Homo sapiens: one gene and its partners. The protein of the gene in region 1 purifies or fractionates together with the protein of each later gene. This does not show direct contact. Each region holds a gene or a part of one and is shown in the gene's direction. Other genes may lie near its edges. The genes, in order: MARCHF1, SLC12A4, PNP, TEX2, BPTF, PPP6C and SON.

What was found.
Region 2: the proteins of MARCHF1 (region 1) and SLC12A4 purify together in Homo sapiens (affinity purification with mass spectrometry; one large-scale study listed by BioGRID and IntAct). This does not show direct contact.
Region 3: the proteins of MARCHF1 (region 1) and PNP purify together in Homo sapiens (affinity purification with mass spectrometry, with the first as the bait; one large-scale study listed by BioGRID). This does not show direct contact.
Region 4: the proteins of MARCHF1 (region 1) and TEX2 purify together in Homo sapiens (affinity purification with mass spectrometry; one large-scale study listed by BioGRID and IntAct). This does not show direct contact.
Region 5: the proteins of MARCHF1 (region 1) and BPTF purify together in Homo sapiens (affinity purification with mass spectrometry, with the first as the bait; one large-scale study listed by BioGRID). This does not show direct contact.
Region 6: the proteins of MARCHF1 (region 1) and PPP6C purify together in Homo sapiens (affinity purification with mass spectrometry, with the first as the bait; one large-scale study listed by BioGRID). This does not show direct contact.
Region 7: the proteins of MARCHF1 (region 1) and SON purify together in Homo sapiens (affinity purification with mass spectrometry, with the first as the bait; one large-scale study listed by BioGRID). This does not show direct contact.

Annotation. Positions count from the first base shown.
Region 1 is NC_000004.12:164,374,020-164,377,519, reverse strand, and holds part of MARCHF1 (E3 ubiquitin-protein ligase MARCHF1), read left to right. Parts: intron 1-3,500. UniProt on the Homo sapiens protein: E3 ubiquitin-protein ligase that mediates ubiquitination of TFRC, CD86, FAS and MHC class II proteins, such as HLA-DR alpha and beta, and promotes their subsequent endocytosis and sorting to lysosomes via multivesicular bodies.
Region 2 is NC_000016.10:67,955,138-67,958,637, reverse strand, and holds part of SLC12A4 (solute carrier family 12 member 4), read left to right. Parts: intron 1-593; coding exon 594-740; intron 741-841; coding exon 842-896; intron 897-3,500. UniProt on the Homo sapiens protein: Mediates electroneutral potassium-chloride cotransport when activated by cell swelling. May contribute to cell volume homeostasis in single cells. May be involved in the regulation of basolateral Cl(-) exit in NaCl absorbing epithelia.
Region 3 is NC_000014.9:20,472,406-20,474,997, forward strand, and holds part of PNP (purine nucleoside phosphorylase), read left to right. Parts: coding exon 1-72; intron 73-2,066; coding exon 2,067-2,170; intron 2,171-2,367; coding exon 2,368-2,543; intron 2,544-2,592. UniProt on the Homo sapiens protein: Catalyzes the phosphorolytic breakdown of the N-glycosidic bond in the beta-(deoxy)ribonucleoside molecules, with the formation of the corresponding free purine bases and pentose-1-phosphate.
Region 4 is NC_000017.11:64,256,761-64,260,260, reverse strand, and holds part of TEX2 (testis-expressed protein 2), read left to right. Parts: intron 1-3,500. UniProt on the Homo sapiens protein: During endoplasmic reticulum (ER) stress or when cellular ceramide levels increase, may induce contacts between the ER and medial-Golgi complex to facilitate non-vesicular transport of ceramides from the ER to the Golgi complex where they are converted to complex sphingolipids, preventing toxic ceramide accumulation.
Region 5 is NC_000017.11:67,940,503-67,944,002, forward strand, and holds part of BPTF (nucleosome-remodeling factor subunit BPTF), read left to right. Parts: coding exon 1-154; intron 155-3,500. UniProt on the Homo sapiens protein: Regulatory subunit of the ATP-dependent NURF-1 and NURF-5 ISWI chromatin remodeling complexes, which form ordered nucleosome arrays on chromatin and facilitate access to DNA during DNA-templated processes such as DNA replication, transcription, and repair.
Region 6 is NC_000009.12:125,148,939-125,151,803, reverse strand, and holds part of PPP6C (serine/threonine-protein phosphatase 6 catalytic subunit), read left to right. Parts: intron 1-1,882; coding exon 1,883-2,131; 3' UTR 2,132-2,865.
Region 7 is NC_000021.9:33,570,538-33,574,037, forward strand, and holds part of SON (protein SON), read left to right. Parts: intron 1-2,013; exon of another isoform or gene 2,014-2,093; intron 2,094-2,770; coding exon 2,771-2,918; intron 2,919-3,500. UniProt on the Homo sapiens protein: RNA-binding protein that acts as a mRNA splicing cofactor by promoting efficient splicing of transcripts that possess weak splice sites.

The DNA of each region.
Region 1 (3,500 bases):
GCTACATTTATGGAGTGAAAAATGTGTGAAGTCTGGAGTCTCCCTCTTCTTAGAAACAACTGTCCTATTTTTCCAACTGTTGGCTCTGAAAAGCAACTGATACAGACTGATTTCTTGTGAAATACATACAATAGTGTTAACAAGCTAGTACTATGTTTATCTCTTTTCTTATTGGTATATGGATAAAACTCAGAACGTATTTCTAGACCAATTCACGGAAATATAGTTAATTCAGGTTATACCTGAAGTAGATTGTTAGAGATATATGATTTAAATTAACTGTGCTTTTATGGATTGACCTAGAATTTTTGTTAAGTCTGCCTGGTGACGGATGGATTGAACTATTACATGTAATGTTATTTTTGAGTGACTTGTATGTTGCAGGTAACATATTCCAGATAACATATTCCAGAAATCACTGACTATTTGGGACACAATGATTGGAAGTCGGAGAATGCCTGGAATAGATTCTTGTGCCTGCCTTCAATTCAGTGTCCTGAGGCACATCAGGAGATAAATGGAAGCTTGGTGAGAGTGATAAATTAGGTACTGACATTGAGGCTCATTGGGGCTGACTGTGGTGAGCAATGATCTGATTCTCATGAAGTATATCACATGCTTTTTGGACCCTGCCGGATGTCCTGTCAATCTCACATCTGTTTCTGGCTCTGGCTCGGGCAATCATTGTAGGCAGCCTTTGACTCAGTTGTGCTATTTCCCATCTCAAGCTTGCGCTGAGTATCTTTCACTTTCTTTTCTGTGACTTTACTAGCATGTCTTATCTTTCCCCCTGCTTCTGACCGTGGTCCATGCAGCCTGGAAGTGAGGAGGAGCTAACACCACCATGGAGCCTCGCAGTCAGTGGGAATGGGTGGATAGTTCCGAGACGCACTCTGCAGCTCCTCATAAGGTCCAAGTGAGAAGGAGCCTCAACCGGCCATGGAAGTGACCCAACTGCATGCACCTGTATTAGCCTTTACTCTCTCCCTGGTTCACTTTACCCGGTGCCTCACTCCTACTCTCCGGGATCACCTTGTATTATTTGCACATAATTTTTTAGTTCAGACTCTGCTTTTGAAGAGAGCCTGGCCTAAGATTTATGACTTTCCTTCTCTAGAGAAAAATGAATAAGAGAAAGAAAAGCAGGACTAAATCATAAGCTACATCCATTACAATGAGAGAAAAAAAGAAAGAAGATAAAACATGTATTTTCAGAGATACTTTCTTTACAAATCTGTCATCTTTCAGATCACCAAGTGAGACCATTTAAATAATTTTTCTAGTAACTGTGAGGTCATCTGTTGACATAATGATTAATTTGCATCTCTTCCTTCTTTTTTACTATACTTTAATATGTAGTTATTGGCAGTCTACTCTATGCTCAACACTCAGCTAGGTCCTGGTAATGTAATGATGAGTGAAAGATGTGGCATGATTCCTGCCTCTTTGGAGCTTTTTATTTCTGTGAAATTAATTAAATAATCACACAAGCCAGTGCACATACGCAAAAGTGAGTATAATGAAGGCCAGATGCACAGTAATGGGGAAGCCTATTAGAGGGGAGTTTGACTCAGCCAGGGAGGTCTGGGGAAGCCTCCTTGAGGAGGTGACATTTTACCTGACATCTGAAGGAAGGGTTAATGAGGTGGAGAAAAAAGATAAAAATTTTCTAACAGAGGGAGAAATGAAGTGTGCTCAAGGTCCTACTGTTGGGGGAAGTTTGAAAGACTCACAGTCAGAGGGAGTGTGATGTAGGCTGAAGAGAGGTACTAAACATAAGGGACTGTCACAAAATATTTGCCATAGTAAGGAATTAATTGTACATGTGTGTGTGCATGTGTATGTGCATGTAGTAGGGGAGCAGTAAAAAGGTGCTAACAAATACAGACCATCTATTTGCAAAAAAGAAATGTATGAATCTGGGAAGAATGTTGTATCGAATATGCAGCCTAGCAAATATTAAGAGTTATGAACATTTGAATCAAATAAAAGTTGTAGGAGTTATCATTTAAAGTTAGAGAACTTCTAAAGAAATAGAGTTGAAAGAAAGGAGAATGAACTATTTATTTATTTATTACTCAATGTATTTGTTCCAGCTCATGGTGATGATACCTTAAGGACTACCTACAAGGCTTTTAAGTTCCATATAACTAAGTAGTTTTTACATAGTTATAAAATTTATATATTTTTGCTAGTTATCTATTAATTTTTAGAGTGGTAGAATTATGGGTAGATATTTTCTTTTAAAAGTACAACATTTCAATTAAAATTTTACTTGATTTATTTTAATAGTGTAACACACAAAGGTCTATTAGATGTTACTGAAGCATAGCACATAGCCACATTTAATTATTCATTCTGGAATCAGCTTTTGTATTTAGGTTTTAATGAAGTTAAATTGCCTCTATACTCACATGAGTTTGGATTTTGGTTCTGCTAAATTCTCCCAAATTTGAAATTCGATCAATTAGAGACAAATTATTTTCCACTTAGAGCTATATTTCCTTTAACATTTCTTAGCAATTTTGTTTTCATGGAACCCAAAGTCAGGTCCCAGGCACCCTGTGAAATGACCCTTTAATATTTAGCATAATATATACAATAAGTTCTTGCCAGCTCTCTTTCCTTTTTAATAAGATAACTTGGTTTATTTATAGCTTATGTTTAAACTTAATCTTTTATGAAATCTTTTAACCTCATGAGTATGTCTTATTTTAGAAACCTTTACTAAATAAATGGATAAACAAGTATTTATTAAGTAACTACTACATGAAAGAAAGATTCTGTGCCATTAACAATAGCAGAGAATTAAAGAGATGGGGGAATCAATTTGACGCATTATTAAGATATTAAGTGACAAGTATAATATAGAAGGAAAAGTCTGATACTTTTTGGTTTGTTCCTTATGACATTCATGGTAGAGAAGATGAGTCTTAAGAAGTGATAATAGATGCTATTTCTATAGCTTTTGTTATGAGGATAAGCCATAGTTGTCAATTTTCAAAAATTGTTAAAAATGAGGCAGAAGGCTTTAATTTTTTGAAACATACATTACCCAGTAATGTCAAAAATAAAGGAAATGTTTATTTTACAAATAGGAAGTATTTTCAACTGTTAATAGTTGTCATAGGACTATCGTTAGCTTTTTGTCCCACTTTTTAAATTTCCCAAATACTTTTAGTAATAATAAGACTGAATTATTATCATAATAACAATTTAAATTAATAATTATTGGATTAAAAGATGAATATTAAAGCAAAACTTAAAAAAATGTTGACGTCTGTTAAATCTAATTAGTTTTCTTGTGGATTTTAAAAATACTTTTCTGAGTGTATAATTGTAATAAATTATATGTAGAGGAAAAAATGATGCGAAAATAATCCTCTGTTTCATGCTAATTTCTATTCTGTGGCAACACATCTAATGTGAACATTTATTTGAAAAATTTCCCTCAAAACAGTGTAAGAGAGAACTTATGCTGATAAATTGTTTTAAAGAAA
Region 2 (3,500 bases), on another chromosome or scaffold:
TTTCAGCATGGGTGATGAGATTAGACTTGCTTTCAGAGACCTACTATAGCAGCAGAGTGGGCTGGAGTGTGGAGAGGTTGACAGGCTCAGGAGGGTACCACCCAGGTGCCCCAGGTTCAAGGGACTAAGGCTGGGACAAGGCAGGCTGATCTCAGGGCAGCAGGGAGACAGACTGGGTAGGAGTTAGTGTCTACCGGGACTAGAGTTGGGGGTTGAGAGGGAGGGCCAGGGATGACTTCTGGGACTTTGGCTTGGGTGACTTAGGGCCTGCTGGGTGAGAAGGTGGAGATCTGAGACAAACCTCTCTTTCTAGAAGTTTAACAGAAGAGAGGAAGGGAAGGAGGCAGTACCTTGAGAGAGAGTTAAGGTTCCAAAGTTCAATGTGGGTTTTTAAAAAGAATCAGGTTTTACACCTTCCCAGACTCAACTGTCTTCCTATATGAAAGTCAATAGAGACATCCTAGCTGTCACCCCTACTCTCTGTGTTCCCTGGGGCCCCACTGGGGGAGGGGGCCTGCTGAGTGACTAGGGCTGACTCTCCATGGTGCATCCCTCTGATGCTCTACTCGCCCCCTCCCTTTGTGTTCGCATAGGCACCCAGCATGGGCACCCTCATGGGGGTGTACCTGCCCTGCCTGCAGAATATCTTTGGGGTTATCCTCTTCCTGCGGCTGACCTGGATGGTGGGCACAGCAGGTGTGCTACAGGCCCTCCTCATCGTGCTTATCTGCTGCTGTTGTGTGAGTGTCCTGGCGTGGGAGGGTTGGGCTGGGCATGGGCCACGGCTGCCCCCACAGAGCCCACCCAGCTGAGCCGCTCACCCAGGCCCTCCTTCCCACAGACCCTGCTGACGGCCATCTCCATGAGTGCCATCGCCACCAACGGTGTGGTTCCAGGTCAGTGAGCGCCACCCAAGGCCTGGTGGAAGAGAAAAGGACCCAGTATCTGCCTTGACCTACCTGGGAACCCCCATAGCACACCCCTGCCCCAAGCAGTTCTGTAGTGGGCTCCCAATCCCTGATGCCAGGACAGTGCCCACGTAGGAGCTTTCCTGCTTGACAGAGTTGGAGAGTGCCATTGTGGTTTTTGTTAATATAAAAGCAATACCAAAAAAGAAAAAAAAAGGGCAATGTATGTTTACTGTAAGAGGGTTTGAAAGTGCAAAAAAAGGCCAGGCGCGGTGGCTCATGCCTGTAATCCCAGCACTTTGGGAGGCCGAGGTGGGTGGATCACAAGGGCAGGAGATCGAGACCATCCTGGCCAACACGGTGAAACCCCATCTCTACTAGAAATACAAAAAATTAGCCGGGCGTGGTGGCGGGCGCCTGTAGTCCCAGCTACTCGGGAGGCTGAGGCAGGAGAATGGCGTGAACCTGGCAGGCAGAGCTTGCGGTGAGCCGAGATTGCACCACTGCACTCCAGCCTGGGCGACAGAGCGAGACTCCGTCGCAAAAAAAAAAAAAAAAAATTAGCCAGGCATGGTGGTGGGCACTTGTAATTCCAGCTACTTGGGAGGCTGAGGCAGAGAATAGCTTGAACCCAGGAGGCAGAGGTTGCAGTAGTGAGCCAAGATCATGCCACTGCACTCCAGCTTGGGTGACAGAGCAAGACTCCATCTCCAAAATAAATAAATAAATAATAAAAAAGTGCAGAAAGGTATAGAATGGAAAATTAAAAGCACCCATAATCCCACCATCCTGAAATCACTACTGTTCGCCTTTTGGTATATATAAGTCTTAGGGTCTTATGAAGTATTGCACACGCACACTCTATTTACATAAATTGTATATATATATATATATATGTGTGTGTGTGTTTGTGTGTATTTCCCAAAAGTATATGTGTGTATATATACATATGCATTTATGTGTATATGTTTACGTGTGTATGTGTGTGTGTATGTTTCCCAAGTGTTGAAAACAGTTTTTTGATTTTGGTTTTTTGGGTTTTTTTTGAGACAGAGTCTCTCTCTGTCACCCAGGCTGGAGTGCAGTGGCATGATCTCAGCTCACTGCAACCTCCATTTCCCAGGTTTAAGCAATTCTAAGTGATTCTCATGCCTCAGCCTCCTGAGTAGCTGGGATTACAGGCGACCACCACATTTTTGTATTTTTAGTAGAGACGAGGTTTCACTATGTTGGCCAGGATGGTTTCGAACTCTTGACCTTAACTGATCCACCCACCTCTGCCTCTCAAAGTGCTGGGATTACGGGTGTGAGCCACTGCACCCTGCCGAAAATGGTTTTTTGAAAACAGGATTCTCCATGGTACACCATAACCTAATTAATGTGATTATTCTCCTGCCTGTGGGTTCCACTTTTTCACCATTGTATACATTGTTGTCATGAACATCCTTGAACATGAATCTTTGTTCATGCCCCAGCAGTTCCCTTAGGAGAGGGTCCTGGAGGTGGATTACGGCATGAAAAAGATTGACTTTTCGTTTATTTATTTATTTATTTATTTTGAGACGGAGTGTGTCGCCCAGGCTGGAGTGCAGTGGCACGATCTCAGCTCACTGCAATCTCCACCTCCCAGGTTCAAGCGATTCTCCTGCCTCAGCCGCCCGAGTAGCTGGGATTACAGACATGCACCACCATGCTCAGCTAATTTTTGTATTTTTAGTAGAGATGGGGTTTCACCATGTTGGCTAGGCTGGTCTCAAACTCCTGACCTCAAGTCATCTGCCTGCCTCAGCCTCCCAAAGTGCTGGGATTACAGGCGTGAGCCACTGTGCCCAGCTGACATTTTTTTTTTTTTGAGACGGAGTCTCACTCTGTCGCCAGGCTAGAGTGAAGTGGCATGATCTCGGCTCACTGCACCCTCTGCCTCCCAGGTTCAAACGATTCTCCTGCCTCAGCCTCCTGAGTAGCTGGGACTACAGGTGCACACCGCCACGCCTAGCTAATTTTGTATTTTAGTAGAGACGGGGTTTCATCGTGTTGCCCAGGCTGGTCACGAACTCCTGAGCTCAGGCAGTCCACCCATCTCAGCCTCCCAAAATGCTGGGATTACAGATGTGGGCCACTGCACCCGGCCTTTTTTTAAAAATGTATATTTTTATCATTTCCTTTTTTTAGTAGAGACGGGGTCTCGCCATGTTGCCCAGACTGGTCTGGAACTCCTGAGCTCAAGCAATCCACTCACCCCAGCCTCCCAAAATGCTGGGCTTACAGGCATGAGCCACCACGCCCAGCCAAGATTGACTCTTTGAAAGAATTTCTTGATCCCTGTTCCCAGATTTTCACCAGAGACATTGTCTCAGCAGCAGATACAACCAGCAACATGAGATGACTCTTGTCCCCCTGTGCTTGTCACCCTGGGGCCTGGTCATGACTCTCTGAGTCTTTTAAGGGTGTTAGACTTTGATAGAAGCACAGATTCAGGGCAGGGAGCCGTGGACACTCACCTGGTGGCAGGCACTGTGCGGGGCCTTAGGGCCAAAAGGCTGGATGAGACAGTCCCTCCTCTGGTCTGGAGGAGTCAGACTAACAAAGGCA
Region 3 (2,592 bases), on another chromosome or scaffold:
GTCTGACTGATAAATTAACTCAGGCCCAGATCTTTGACTACGGTGAAATCCCCAACTTTCCCCGAAGTACAGGTACTGGCAAGGGAAAGTGGGGAATGGGACTGAGGGATGTTCTTGGAATTCTGTGGAACACAACCAAGGAGGCCAATGTTTCTACTCCTTGACCTAGCATTTCACTGAAGACAAATGTTGTAAGAGAGGAGAAAAGCCCACCATGAGTCAGAGTGACTTTAGGAGATGCCTCTAGCAGACATCCCATAAGAGACAGGACATGTGTGTGTCAGTGGACTGAGGCTAAGACTCAGAAGAGGGCCAGGTGACAGGGGCCAAGTAAAGGGCAAGGGTTGTTTATTTGGTTTACGTAATTTCTCAAATAACTAACTTCTGTTGGTTTATTTATTAATTTTTAAGATTTCTATCTTCTTTTCCCTGGAGAGTTAAGAATTTTTTTTTAAGACCTGTCAGCAGGAAAAGACCTTTAATAGCTATTTTTTTAAACTCTTTAACACAAGACTGGAAGAGCAGAGGGAGAAGGTGAGGGAAATATTAACAGAGGGTGTGTGAAGGGCATACTTCTCTAAGGGAGATAGTAGTGACGCTGGCTCCACTGGCCACTCCTACCCCCAGTGAGAAGGGCACTGCATTAAATGATAAGTGGGTTAGTTTTTTTAAGCTTATCAACATGTTTATTTTTTATACTCCACTTGGGTTTCCTTTGTCAACTTTATTACTGTTTTTGTTTTGTTTTTTTGCATAAGCTCCTCTATCTTTGAGAATTTCTCAGCTCTTCCTCTTGGTTCTAGTCCCTCTCCCATTCCCTAAGGGATAGGTTGGCCGTCTATTAGAAGTGACTGCCAGATAAAAGAAATGGTAATAATGGCTGTTATGTCTGTGGGGAGTTATCTTTGCACTCCCACGCACCCCTCCGTGGGCATGTGTTCCCATAGGACTGTTCCGTGGGTCATAAGGAAAGAGACACTTGCATGCGTTCAAATTCTTTCCCCCTTGTTCAGTAGCCTCTTCTTTAAGAAGCCAGAGTAAGTATACTATGAGCTTGCTTGCTGGACTGAGGAGGCAGGTAATTAAGTTAGGGCAATAGATAAGAATACATGTTTTGAGAACTTTGAAAAATTTGAAGAGGTCTATAATTACTGCATTCACTGTACTCACTTTATTTTGAAACAGAGTCTCGCTCTGTCACCCAGGCTCGAGTGTAGTGTTGTGATCTCGGCTCACTGCAACCTCCACCTCCCAAGTTCAAGAGATTCTCCCACCTCAGCCTCCCGAGTAGCTGGGATTACAGGCATGTGCCACCACACCTGGCTAATTTTTGTATTTTTAGTAGAGATGAGGTTTCACCATGTTGGCCAGGGTGGTCTTGAACTCCTGGCCTGTTGATCCGCCTGTCTTGGGCTCCCGAAGTGCTGGGACTACAGGTGTGAGACACCGCACCTGGCCTATTTTTAATTTTAATTTTTATAGATTTACAGGGGTACAATGCAGTTTTGTTATATGGATATACTGCGTGGTGGTGACGTCTGTGCTTTAGTGTAACCATCACCTGAGCAGTGAACATTGTACTTATTAGGTAATTTCTCATCCCTCATCCCCATCCCACTTTCTCACCTTTCCGAGTCCCCAGTGTCTATTATTTCACTCTGTAGGTCCATATGTACACATTTGGTTCCCACTTATAAGTGAGAACATGTAGTATTTAATCTTCCATTTCTGAGTATCTACTTTTTTTGCTCACTTTTTACTCTCTGGCAGTATGGCTTGTATTATCTTGAAATTTCTTTAAAAAGCCCTTCCTTCTTTGTGTGTTCATGCTGAACATGCTGAACGCACCCCATATCTCTAATCTTGGGTTGTATTTGTATAATTATTAGTAATGCCTGGCTCTCTCACCAGACTTAAACTTTCTGAAAGCAGAGATAATAATGAGTCTTTTACTTAATTACAACCTAACATTTTGAGCAGAGCGAGTAACTCACAGTAGGTGCTTAATGGATATGTGTTGCATGAAAATATAATCCCATTCATTTCTCTTTCTGTTTTGTATACAGTGCCAGGTCATGCTGGCCGACTGGTGTTTGGGTTCCTGAATGGCAGGGCCTGTGTGATGATGCAGGGCAGGTTCCACATGTATGAAGGGTACCCACTCTGGAAGGTAAGTCAGAGGGATAGGTCCGGTTGGATCTGGAAGAGGCAGGAGAGAACTATCTAGCCTCTTTCACTACCTAGCTATCTGGGCTAGGTGGATTTTTGGTCCTCTCCTTCCTTTTCTTTCACGATGTATGTCATGCATTTCAGTGTAGCTGAATTAATGAAATTTTGTAAATTTTTTTCGGATTGTTTGCTTCGAAGGTGACATTCCCAGTGAGGGTTTTCCACCTTCTGGGTGTGGACACCCTGGTAGTCACCAATGCAGCAGGAGGGCTGAACCCCAAGTTTGAGGTTGGAGATATCATGCTGATCCGTGACCATATCAACCTACCTGGTTTCAGTGGTCAGAACCCTCTCAGAGGGCCCAATGATGAAAGGTATGTATGTTACTCCGTTTTTTTTAGGTGGGTAGGATTTAAAGACTTC
Region 4 (3,500 bases), on another chromosome or scaffold:
CTTGAGTGGACATGTTCAGAGTGGTCAGGTTCAGAGATGTTCAGAGAATTGCTGCACTAATGAGCTCCTGTGCTCCTGCTGGAGCCAGAGTTAGATGCCGATGTCTGTCTCTCTGCCAAGTGCAGTTTTGAGTAATTCACGAGGCTATTGGGAAATCTTTTACTGCCATGAAAAGGTGACTGGACTGACTGGGTCTGTATCCTTGTGCTCTGCTTACCAGCTCTGTGACCTTAAGGGTAAATTACTTCTCTTTCTGTGTACCTCAGTTTCTTTGTAAAGTGGGAAAATATTCCCATTTCAACAATGCTAAGACAGTGTAATTTATGTAATGTTAACATTCCTGGGGAAAAAAAGCATCTTGTAATGTATGGGGTCTTAGACTTGTAGTCAGCAGTGGCTTCCTTTTTTGGCACATAAAATAACAGTGTGTCTTATAGTCAATGGTCTTAGATGAACTAGGGTAGTATATTATTTATAGGTAGTTGTAAGAATTAAATGAGATCACTTATGTCCCTGGTTCTAGTGAGCACCCAATAACAGGTCATGCTGTCCACTGACAGGATGAATGGTTAACTGGGAAAAGCTGGGAAGCATCTCGTAAGATTTGCCACTCAACGCCTAGGCAATAATCCATGGTTTGTGGCTGGAGGAACATTTTCCAATTTGCCTAGAGCACTATCCTTTGGCTGACTCTTGTCCCTGTGAGAAACATTAACTTCAGGAGCTAACGAGCCATGGACAGACAGCTCCCTTTGTCTTCCTATTCATTAAGGTCTTTGTCAACTTTAAATCCCAAGTTTAAAGTAAATATTGTAATAAGAAGACTGGAAGCCCATGCTGTTGTGAATATTCTTACATGTGAGTTTTAAAGCAACTCATAGGTTATACAAGATTTTGTGTTGCTCCTTTCCAAACTCTTTATAATGCGTAATTACACTGCGTGAAATGTCCATGAAGCACCATTAATGAGAGGGATGCTAGGAGGTCATGAAAGTTCAGAAGCCCTTGACTGGCATTGGTGGGGTGGAGAGAACACTAGACTTGGAGTCAGAAGGCTACAGTCCTGACAGTTTCACCTGTCATCCCTGCTTCACCATTAGAAACATATTTCCCAATGGCTGCGTGGATCACCCAAAATTGCACTGGGCAGCAAGGCAGGATACCAGCTGCGCGTCACTTCACTAATTTGGACTTTTAAAAGTCTCTCTTCCAGGACAGGGCGCGGTGGCTCATGCCTGTAATCCCAGCACTTTGGGAGGCGGATCACCTGAGGTCAGGAGTTCAAGACCAGCCTGACCAACATGGTGAAAACCTGGCTCTATTAAAAATACAAAAATTAGCCAGGCGTGGTGGCACATGCCTGTAGTCCCAGCTACTTGGGACTGAATCAGGAGAATCGCTTGAACCTGGGAGGTAGAGGTTGCAGTGAGCCGAGATCGCACCACTGCACTCCAGCCTGGGTGACAGAGTGAGACTCTGTTTAAAAAAAAAAAAAAAGTCTCTCTTCCAAAATGAAGAGTTGATTTCTTAGTGCCATCCCCTACTGCTAGCAGTCTCATAGATTATATGAGTTTATGATTCTAAGAATCTGAGAAATTAAACAATTGAAAGAAAATGATTGTATTCAGGACTTTTGAAGTCTCAGGTGTTTGTGATAGTGCTTTGAAAAACAAAACAATACGCAGGTGATAACAATGTGAGTAACTATCATTTACGGGGAATCGTGTGCCAGGCACTGTTCCTACCTTTAAACTTTATACCACCCTATGAATAGTAGATACTATTATCAATCTTATTTTAAGATGAGAAAACTGAGGCTCAGAAAGGTTAAATAACTTTCCAAGATTACACAGCAAGGTCAAGGACTGATAGCTGGGCCTAGAATACTGGCTTATGTTGCTCCCCAGTGGATGCCTGAAACCATGGATAGTGCTGAACCGTATATACACCACGTTTTTTTCCTATGCATGTATACCTATAATAAAGTTTAATTTATAAATTAGACACGGTAAGAGATTAACAATATAACTAATAAAAATAGAACAGTTGGGCCAGGTGCGGTGGCTCACACCTGTAATCCCAGCATTTTGGGAGGCTGAGGTGGGCAGATTGCCTGAGCTCAGGAGTTCCAGACCAGCCTGGGCAACACAGTGAAACCCCATCTCTACCAAAATACAAAAAATTAGCCAGGTGTGGTGGTGTGCACCTGTAGTTCCAGCTACTCAGGAGGCTGAGGCAGGAGAATCGCTTGAGCCCAGGAGGCGGAGGTTGCAGTGAGCCAAGATTGCACCATTGCATTCCAGCCTGGGCGACAGAGCGAGACTCCATCTCAAAAAAAAAAAAAGAACGGTTATAACAACCACATATTGTTCACAATTTTCGGAGATAGAAGATTCATTCTTAACATAGATCTTAGCAACCTCAGTACAAGATTTTTTCCTTTCCTAAGTTGTGAAGTTTGACTTTTTCACTTAAAGGAAGCACTTTACAGCTTCACTTTGGCGTATCCAAATTGCCAGCGTCATTAATCTTGTGCTTTGGGGCTGTTATTAAGTAAAATAAGCGTTACTTGAACACAAGAACTGTAATATGGTGACAGTTGATCTGATAACTGAGACAGCTAAAGGTGACTAATGAGTAGGTAGCGCCTACGGCGTGGATCTGCTGGACAAAGGGAGGATTCACATCCTGGGCAGGATGGGATTGGACAGTGAGAAATTTCATGACACTACCCAGAATGGCATGCAGTTTAAAACTTGCGAATTGTTTATTTCTGCAATTTTCCATTTGATATTTTCAGAACTTGGTTGGCTATGGGTGACGGAAACTGCAGATAAGTGGGGACTACTTGTATTGGGAGAACTTTGTTAAACTTAAAGAATTAACTCTTATTGCAGAAGACTTAAGTCCTTGAAAGGAAAGGCTTTTCTTTGGTGAACAAAAGCCATGTGCCAGGTCACTGTGAGCATAAATGGGACTATTGAGAGAAGAATCTAACCTTTCTGTGTGGAAGCTGGGAGAATGGGAAATGTGGGTGGGCTTTGAAACAACCAGGTAACCTTTGTCTGCTGGATTTGCCTGGAATATTGGTTCTAAGGGCTTTTCCCTAAGAAGATTATTGCAACAAACACATTAAGTGCCTCCCCAGCTTATTCTAACAGTTGAAAGCAGCACTGGGCAAGAGGAGCTGGCTTCAGTCATAAGCTTATTTAGGATCTGAGATTAAAACCTACCCGTTGGATTGCTCCTGCAAATAACCTTTCAGAATCCCAATATGCATTTTATAAGTTTCATTTCTCTTGCTGTTCAAAGCTGACATAAGCTGGCTTGTTTTCTTATTCAATTTTCAGTCCTTTCTTGGACCTCATGCTGTCTTTTGGGCTGTATTCTTATAGATGGTTATATTTATTATTTTAGGCTCAAAATAGAGAATTTAAAAATCTTTTTACTGAAAGGATTGACTGAACAGTGATCGTCATTCAGCAAGTATTTGAGCATCT
Region 5 (3,500 bases), on another chromosome or scaffold:
CCCTAACACGGTTTCCTCAACACCTGGGCAGAAAAGCTTAACTTCAGCAACGTCCACTTCAAATATACAGTCTTCAGCCTCACAACCCCCTCGCCCCCAACAAGGACAAGTGAAGCTCACCATGGCTCAACTTACTCAGTTAACACAGGGCCACGTAAGTAACATAAGCTTTATTTTAACTTTAGAGGTGATCTTATTTATTCTTGCGGTAAGTTTAAAAACATGAACTTATTTTGATACGTTTTTAAATGTGCTGATTTGAAGAAATGGTTGCTTCCTGGAGTCAAGCAGAAATACCTCTTAGACAGGATATAATAAACCCCAACTACTAGAGTAATCTTTAGACAGTGAGCTAAAACAGTGAGACAGATAACCCTTTTAAACACCAAAATTTTATTAGTTGGCTAATCTCCATGAGACAAATAAAATTTGAGTACATTAAGCTGCTTCCTTGCAAGACTCGATATTGTTAGCAAGTCTTCTAATATTGATTAATAAATTGAATGCAGCTCCCATCAAAATCCCAAGAGGTTTTGTTTTTAGTGAAACTTCACAAGCTGATACTGAAAGTTTATATGGAGGTACAAAGTATTAAGAATATCTGTACCTTTGAAGAACAGGATTATTTGCCCTATATATGATAACTTGATATCAAAACTTAGTATAGGCTGGGCATGGTGGCTTGCGCCTGTAATCCCAGCACTTTGGGAGGCCAGGGCGGGTGGATTGCTTGAGGTCAGGAGTCTGAGACCAGCCTGACCAACATGGTGAAATTCCATCTCTGCTAAAAGTACAAACAAATTAGCTGGGCGTGGTGGCATGCGCTTGTAATCACAGCTACTCAGGAGGCTGAGGAAGGAGAATTGCTTGAACCTGGGAGGCGGAGGTTGTAGTGAGCTGAGATTGCACCACTGCATTCCAGCCTGGGTGACAAAGCAAGACTTCATCTAAAAAAAACCAAAAAACTTAGTATATAATACTTCACTAATTAATATAGTGAGGTACAGACATAAGGAGAGGCAGATAGACCAACAGAACAGTAGAGAGTGCAGAACATGAACCCCATGTATGTGGACACTTGTTATATGACAAAGGTGACATTGCAGATCATTGAGGAAGAGATGACTTTTCAGTAAATGGTGCCAGGACAATTGAATATACATGGGAAACTGTGAAATTGGACCATTATTACCTCACTCTACATAAACTCAATTCCAGGAGGATGAAAGTCCTAACTGTGAAAGGTAAAACTATAATACCTTTAGAAGATAGAAGAATATCTTCATAGCTTTCCTAAACAGATAGAAAATGCTAACCATAAATGAAAAGATTTATAAATTCAACTACTTTAAAAATAAGAGTAAGAACCTCTGTTCATCAAACTCACTACAGAGAGAGTGAAGAAAATGAGAAAAGAACCAACCAAGGACTATTACATATCCAGAATATATAAAGAATTACTACAAATCAAGAAAGAAAAAAATCCAGATAGATCAATAGGAAAAAAGACAAACAGGCAAGGTGCGGTGGCTCACACCTGTAATCCCAGCACTTTGGGGGGCCAAGGTTTTGGGAGGCCAAGCCAGGTGGATCACTTGAGGTCAGGAGTTTCAGACCAGCCTGGCCAACATGGGGAAACCCCGTTTCTACTAAAAATACAAAAATTAGTCAGGCGTGGTGGTGTACGCCTGTAATCCCAGCTGCTTGGGAGGCTGAGGCAGGAGAATTGCTTGAACCCAAGAAGCAGAGGTTGCAGCGAGCCAAGATATACCACTGCACTCCAACCTAGGCAACAGACTCCGTCTCAAAAAAAAGAAAAACAAAAAAAAAAGGACAAACCAACATTATGAGGAAAGAAGAAATCTAAATGTCCCAAATTCCAAAAAACTGCTGAACTTTATTAATAATGAGAGAAGTACATATTAAAACCATATGCTTAAGAGATTGGTACAAATTTAAATGTCCAACAAAACCAAGAGTTAGCAAAGACATAGAGCAGAAAGAATTCTCATGCACAGCTGGTGGGCCTATCAGTCGGTTCAGCCATTTTGGAAACTTCCTGGACATGGTCTGGTAAAGTCAAAGCTGTGTATGCCCAAGGTCCCAGTATACCTTCTAGGTATATCCCTAGAGAAGTTGTTGGCCATGTGAGCACCAGAATACATGGCATAAATATTGGTAGCAGCATTGTTCATAAGAATCAAAAACTAAGAACAACTCAGGTGTCTATCAAAATCAGTTAGCTAAGTAAATTGTAGTATATTCCTACAGCAATAAAAATGAATAGACTTCAGCCACACAGAACTATGCAGATGATTCTCACAAATATATAATGGTAAGCTAAAGAAGCAAGTAGCTGCCAAAAAAAATACATGTTATAATTTCATTTGTATAAGATTCAGAAATAGGCAAAACTAAGCTATTTTGTGTAGGGATACAGGGCTGCTGCATTGCCTGCCTGGAGGGGGCACTATTCCCATTGTATTCTTTGTGAATATTGCTCCTGAGTTTGTGAACCTCAGTGGCCTTATATATACCTAAGATACATACCGAAGTAGTAATGAAATACAGTGTTATCATCAAAGTGAGGATAGTGCTTACCTCTAGGGGAGAGGGAGGGAATTGAAATCCGGGTGAGTCATATGGGGACTTCTAGGACACTGGCAATGGTGACCACAGTGGCGGTTTTATAGATGTTTACTTTATAATTTTTAAATTATACTTGGTGTTTTGTGCATTTTGTGCATAAAAAATGTATTTTAGAAAAGCAAGAGTAAATAAGTTTTGAGGGATTCACATGTATATGGAGCTTACTTAGTACATGGACTTTGCGCCATCAGTTTTGGTCATTGGGAGTTTAGGGGATGGTTTTTACTTTTGCTTTCCAGTTCTCCAGCATGTTCCTGGTATTCAGGGTTTCTAGTTGAATTACAGTTCTGGACAGAAGAGAGAGCGCCTAGAGAATTTTAAATTTCTGGACCCCTTTTTGGTAACTGCTCAGACCTTAGTGATCCTCCTTACTTGGTGTTTGCATTACATATCTAAAACCCTAAGCTTTTTACAGTTTAGCACACACACACCCCATAGGTAATTTGGCACGTATTGAAAGACAAAATTCAGGAGATCTAGGTTCCTTCTTTTATCTCACCTTTAAGTTGGCCAGGGTACTTGACCTTTCTAACCTGAGTTTCTTAGTTGGGAATCAGAAGAATATTTTCTCTGCCTACCCCATAAAGTCACAAGTCCATTGTGAGAATCAAATGAGGCAGTATCTATGAAGATGCTTTTGAAATTGTAAAATATGAATATAAGATTATTTAAAATCAGAATTTTGTGGGGACTTTAGTTATTCAATACCTTTATTTTATAGATTGGGAAACTTGGATCTGGAGGAACAGTGTTGCTTGTGGACAGATAACTGGCTGACCATTGGGGGAGCTTGAACTGGAACTCTGGATTGTTGATGTTTTTCCTACTAAGCAACATAAATATTCTTACTT
Region 6 (2,865 bases), on another chromosome or scaffold:
GAAGCCAGAATGAGACAATGCAGATAGGAAGTCCCAGCAGTTAATCTCAATCCTTCTTTCTTCATTTCGGATAAGCTCAGATATACCTGATGTGGGATATAGAAAGCTACACTGGAGCAAGCTGGGTCTTCTGCTGAATTCGTCATCAAATACCAAGGGAAAACAAGGGGTGGGGTGGATTTTATTCTTAAAAAGCCTCAGAAGTTACTGTATTATAAAGGGACATGACTGAATAGGTAAGAAACGGATTCTTCATTGTGAATTTTCCTGATGGCTTCTGCAAGGCTCATAGAGATGTTGATCACCTGTATTTTGGAATGGTGCTTCATCTTGTCCTCCTGGGGTATGTTATTGGTGACTACTACTGCTTTAAAGCATGCGTTGTTGATGTGAGAAATAGCTGGACCAGAGAAGATTCTGTGAGTCAAGATAGCATAAACTTTGGTGACTCCAGCTGAGAGAAGTTTGTCAGCTGCATGGCAGATTGTGCCACAAGTGTCAACCATGTCATCCGCAAGGATGGCCACCAGATCCTTCACATCTCCCACAAGCACCATGCGGTCGACTTCATTGGCCTTCTTTGTGAATCAAGGCAAAGTCCACATTCAGCCTGTCTGCAATGGAGGTCACTCTCTTAGCTCCACCAGCATCAGATGAAACAATAGTGCAGTTCTTCTGCTCAGAGATATTCTCCCTTATCCACTTCAGGACACCTGGCTCTGCATACAGATAGTCCACTGGGTTATCAAAAAAGCCCTGAATTTGAGAAGCATGTAGGTCCATGGTGATAATATGATCTGCGCCTGCCACAGATAGCATGTTTGCAACAAGCTTGGCTGAGATTGTCACCTGACTCTTTATTATCCTGCTGGGCATAAGGGAAGCATGGGATGACTGCAGTAAGCTGGCTCGCTGAAGCAGTCTTGCAGGTATTAGTCATGATCAAAGGCACCATTAAATTGTCATTGATTTTGCCACAACCACTCTGAATGATGTAGACATCCTTTCCACGTACACTTTTGCCAATTTCCACACAGGTCTCCTAGTTGCTGAATTTCTCAATCACTGCCTTGCCGAGCTCCAGGCCCAGGCGATCGGCAGTTTTCTGAGATAAGCCCTGGTGGGAGCTGCCGCTGAAGATTTTGATATTCAGGATCCTGGCCAACTACCCTAAGCACTCTTCACTAAGTGATCACTGCTGCTGCAGAGACTGCAACCAAAGTCGGCCCAGAGACTCAATACTAATCTCTTTGCGATGCTACTCCGCCATCTTCAAGATAGGCAGTACTTTGAACTTTCAACTGTTTTCAGTTAAAACACACACACACACTTTGAACTTTCAACTGTTTTCAATTAAAACACACACACACACACACACACACCCCTTATATTGGGAAGTGCTCCAGCATCATAATGAAGTCAAAAAACTAGATTCTGATCCTGCATCAGTGTATCTTAATTTAGATAAGTTATTTATCTAGTCTGAGCTTTTGTTTCCTTAAGTTGCAAAAGAATAATCTCTTTCAGAATTATTGCAACATCTACATATACTAAACCTTCAGTAAATGGTAGATACTGATAGCAATATCTTTATTATTAAATCAGAAAACACAAAATTTTGTTTCATAGTACCTATTGAATGCTTTTTCTTCCAGAAATTTCTAACTGTTTATGTAGCTGTACAGTTTCCATAGTTGTGCACTTGACTCAGGCCAAAATTGCTGTTTGCCTAAACTTATTAAATTGTTGGAGATAATTATAGAGTGCGTTCTATAATCTTGATGCCTTTAGTAGTAATAGGATTTGGTATTTTATTTAAATGATTATGTAGGCCGATTGTTTTTTAAGTGCTAAGTACTTACAGTGCCTTTCTAAATTGCAGTTTGTTCATATCAACAACTTAAAACTCATCTGCAGAGCACATCAACTAGTGCACGAAGGCTATAAATTTATGTTTGATGAGAAGCTGGTGACAGTATGGTCTGCTCCTAATTACTGCTATCGTTGTGGAAATATTGCTTCGATCATGGTCTTCAAAGATGTAAATACAAGAGAACCAAAGTTATTCCGGGCAGTTCCAGATTCAGAACGTGTTATTCCTCCCAGAACGACAACGCCATATTTCCTTTGAGGCCTTCGCCCATCCTGCTGACCCATTTTTCTGCCCTCTTCTTACCCCAATTTTCTTGTATTACCCTCTACAATATACTTTTTATTGAGCACTTTGCTGCTGAAATGCTGCCTCTTGCCTTTTTTTTTTTAAATTTTAAATTATCTAAATTTATTGTTTGTTGTGGTGTCTATAGCAAAGTTTTTCTATCAATTTTCCCCCATCCCATCCCCACCCTGGACTCATTTGAGAAGACTTGAGAAATGTCTTAATACTCACACTGCTGCATGTAGCTCTTGCTTATTTACTGGTCTGGGAAACAGGATGTGTTTCCTTTTTTTAAAAGCCAATTGACAGATTACACCTAAATACTCCTCCTTTTGTATCATTCAGCCTTTTGTTTTAGTTTGGTAAGTTTTAAGAAATTTCAGCAGCAAAGTTGTTATTCAGTGGGCACGATGGACTCCAAATGCCTCAAGTTATGTATACCTGTCCCAGATGTAAACTTCATTGTCCTTTGTTGGATGATATTTTAAATGGATATAAAATAAATTGGTCTAAAGGGCTGCCCTCCTTGTTGTGTTTTTAAATTTTAGTTAAAAACTGCTACAGCTTATGACTTTGTACTTTAAGATAATTGTATTGATCTTTTTTCAGATTCCTTGTATTTTTTAATAAAGTAATCTTAAATAAAACTCAGATAGGTTAAGTGTTAGAAATTTTAAACAGCTTACATTGTTAGCGTAAAGTTATCT
Region 7 (3,500 bases), on another chromosome or scaffold:
AATAAAGGGTGAAAATGTATATAGCAAAATATTTTAAAGATTGGATTAATCTTGGACTTCTATATTATAGTTACTATGAAAGTGATTTATATAATATTTGAAAAAATGTCTTTCATCTTTGGAAGAACTATAAATGTACATCTATTTCTTTAGTTTTAATTCTTTAATACTATTTAGTCTTGAAGCTAAGTACTCAGCCAGTATTTCAGGAAGTTAGAAATAAAGCTTATGGGTGTTAAAATAGGCACATAATACAGAGTCATGTACACTGCTAGGTAGAAACTTCTGAATGTGCTTCCATTACAAAATTTTGGTCTTTATCTAATGATGTGCTGATCCATAATGTTTGTATACTTATAAATGTGTTAATAACTTAAATAACTTTTAAAAAGTGAATCTTTTACTGACTCAATTGGTTTTCCCCTAAAATAATTTCTTCTGGTATTTGCAGTCTTGTAGGCAGTTAACAGACTTTAATAACTTTAAAATGTTTAGTAGCACCTTGAAAAAAGGCTTCAACTTTATATTTTATGTAAGATATACTTTGGGAAGCAAATTATTTTGATAAATTATGAGATAAAGATATGTTCAGACCAAATTTTAAATTATAGATAAAAGTAGCACTTAAAGGAAAAGATTCATTTGTATAGAATTACTGAAGAATATTTGATGCTAGTATCAACTAAAAAAGAAACTTTTGAAAATTAAAAATGGGCCACAACATGTAGAAGTCATTAGGCAGCTGAAAATTTAGGATGTATGATCCATGTTAAATATCACAAATATTGTCTACTCATTAAATGTTTAGTTGTGTTTAGAAAACCTGTCAAACGATCATTTTGGCTCTTCTTTAGTATAGTCCAGCATCTGCCTTATGTGTTAAAAAACACATGGAATACCAACATCCTCCGTGTTCTTTTTAGTTTGTTGCAGTGTATTTTTAGATTACAAAAAAAGCAAAGTTTTATCAGTAGTCTCATTAATCAGTAAAACATTTAAAGTAGTTCGTTTAAAAGAAATTTTATTTCTAGAATGGAATGATTTGGATGTGACCTGATAAATACAGTTTGTTATTGTGGTCTCATTAAATTAATCAGCTTTTTCACACTGGGGTAAAGAAACAGATGATGATACTAGGGAATGGAAACAAAATTGGAAACCTGGGTTATTTGGGGATTTATATTGTACTCTGCACAGTTGCCCTTTTTTTTAGGCGTGTTCCCTGGAAAAGAGGGACGGATGAACCTGGAAGTAAGTAAAAGACATTCTAGGTGTGTAGCATCAAGGCAGTTAATATCCAAGCATCAGCTTTCTCTTTATACATCTACACTGCATGGCCTGCACCAAATAAGGAACTGAACCAGGGGTATGTTTTTACCTCCACAGCTGCCTCCTTCCATCAGAGCACCTTGATGAACTTAATGTCTAGTCACACGTCATTGGCATGTTTTCTCCCCAGCATTTAATTACAAAGCTGGGAAACAAAAGATGATAGATACAGTTTTACTACTGCATACAAACATTTCTTTTTTACATTCAGTATTAACTTATCAATATAGGAGATGTGCATACTATTTCCTGAGCTACTGAAGTTTTTTTACTCTCTCTGTTGATAAGTTAATGACTTTTGCTATATTATATATTTATATATATATATATATATATATTTGGTAAGAGAACATAAAAACCTAAAATTTAGTAACAAGGGGAAAATAAAGCATGATTTGGAGATATGTTTCAAATTTTTAAAAAATGACCATAAAGATCAACAGTACAACTTAATACTGTTTGCTATATGTACATGGATGCCCTTTAATAAGAGGCATTGAATATTTCTTAACCTGTAAAAATAACTGTTGACCATGCTAATGTATATATACTTGTGCATCTTAGGACATTAAGTGGTTTGCTGCTTTGATGGAAATTATGGTTCAGTGGGTTGGATACAAGAGAGATGACTGTTCACAGAATAACCTGTGAACTTTCACCCCTCTGTATGGAAACTTGTTTCAGGGCCAAATCCTTGTAGCTGTCTTCTTGCCCCGGTCAGTGCCAGCCGTACTATTCACAACACTGCTGCTACCGAGGCCTAGGTATGTAAACATTTAAGGAGTTTTTTAAAAGTCTTTTAACATCAAGCTAGGTTTTAAAAGAATTCAAATTCATTTTGGCATACTTACAGGATATTTTATGTGATTGTTTTCTATTTGTTACTGTGTAAATTTCAAGAGTTTTTTTTTTTTTTTCTGCTTTAGGGATTTTCTAAGTAAAATATTTATACTTGCTTTATAGTAGAATGGGGAAGAAAACTTTGGATGACAACAGTATGCTTCTTCAGTGTCTAAACTATTTCTAAGTGATTTCTGGGCTTTATTCATAAACTAGGTACACCTGGGACAATTAATATCATTGATTGTTTTAACATTGCCTTCTTTTTATTTTGCAAGCTAAGAAGAGATACCAGTGAACCTAAATAGTGGACGAAAACAGGAGTGTTCTAATTTTTTTTTTTTGAGGGGGGCACGAGGGCTACTGTTTCAAAACTGCCATTTACTTGTCTTATTTGACTTCCAAAATACTATTACGTTAATGTGCAAATAATCAGAACATACACACTACAGTATGTATAAAGTATAGAGGAATTTACATTTAATTGCTATAACAGATCTAGAAGTAAAGTAAGATTCCTCTTTTTAGAAAGTAAACAATGAATCTGTCACCAAGTTCTAACTGTAAAATGGGGACATTTTACCTTTCTTTCTTTGGATAGGATCAGTTCTTAAGAGCAGCCCCGGTAACTGGAGGAATGGGAGCCGTTTTGATGAGAAAAATGGGCTGGAGAGAAGGAGAAGGATTAGGAAAAAACAAAGAAGGCAATAAGGAACCCATCCTAGTTGATTTTAAGACAGACCGAAAAGGTAACAAGTTCTTTTTTGGAATGTTTATTAACGTCTCCTTTAACATTACCTTTAATATATCCTTTTGAACCCAGTGATACTGAACTGAAGGCACTTCTTGTATATATACAGGTATTTGTCAGAAAAAACATTAACCCCTTTTGGGGTTCACAGAGCAGCTTATTTTTATATAACTATGGATAGAGACACCAGTTTGAACTTTTAAAAGGCACCTTTTGTTATGCTAGTTGCTAAATATGGAAATGTGTATATATCTAATTTTATTATTACACCTCCAAATTCAACTGGATTTCATGTTTAGAAAACAGGATTTCCATTTTATTTTCTCTTGACAAGGAACCATCCTTTTTTCTAGAGTTTAGTTTATTTTTTGTTAGATATTTTAGCACATCTTCATTATTTCCTATTACAATACTGGTTTAGTCTAGATTTCATAAACCCTGTTTGCTTTTTTCTTCCAAGCTCAGTAGTTAAGTTGGGTTAGAGTATAGTAGACCAGCTGCTGACAATAATGTTACTTCTTCCTGTTGCCTTGTGTTAAGGCATCTTGGAACTGTTAGCATTGACTGTATTTTCCTTTTA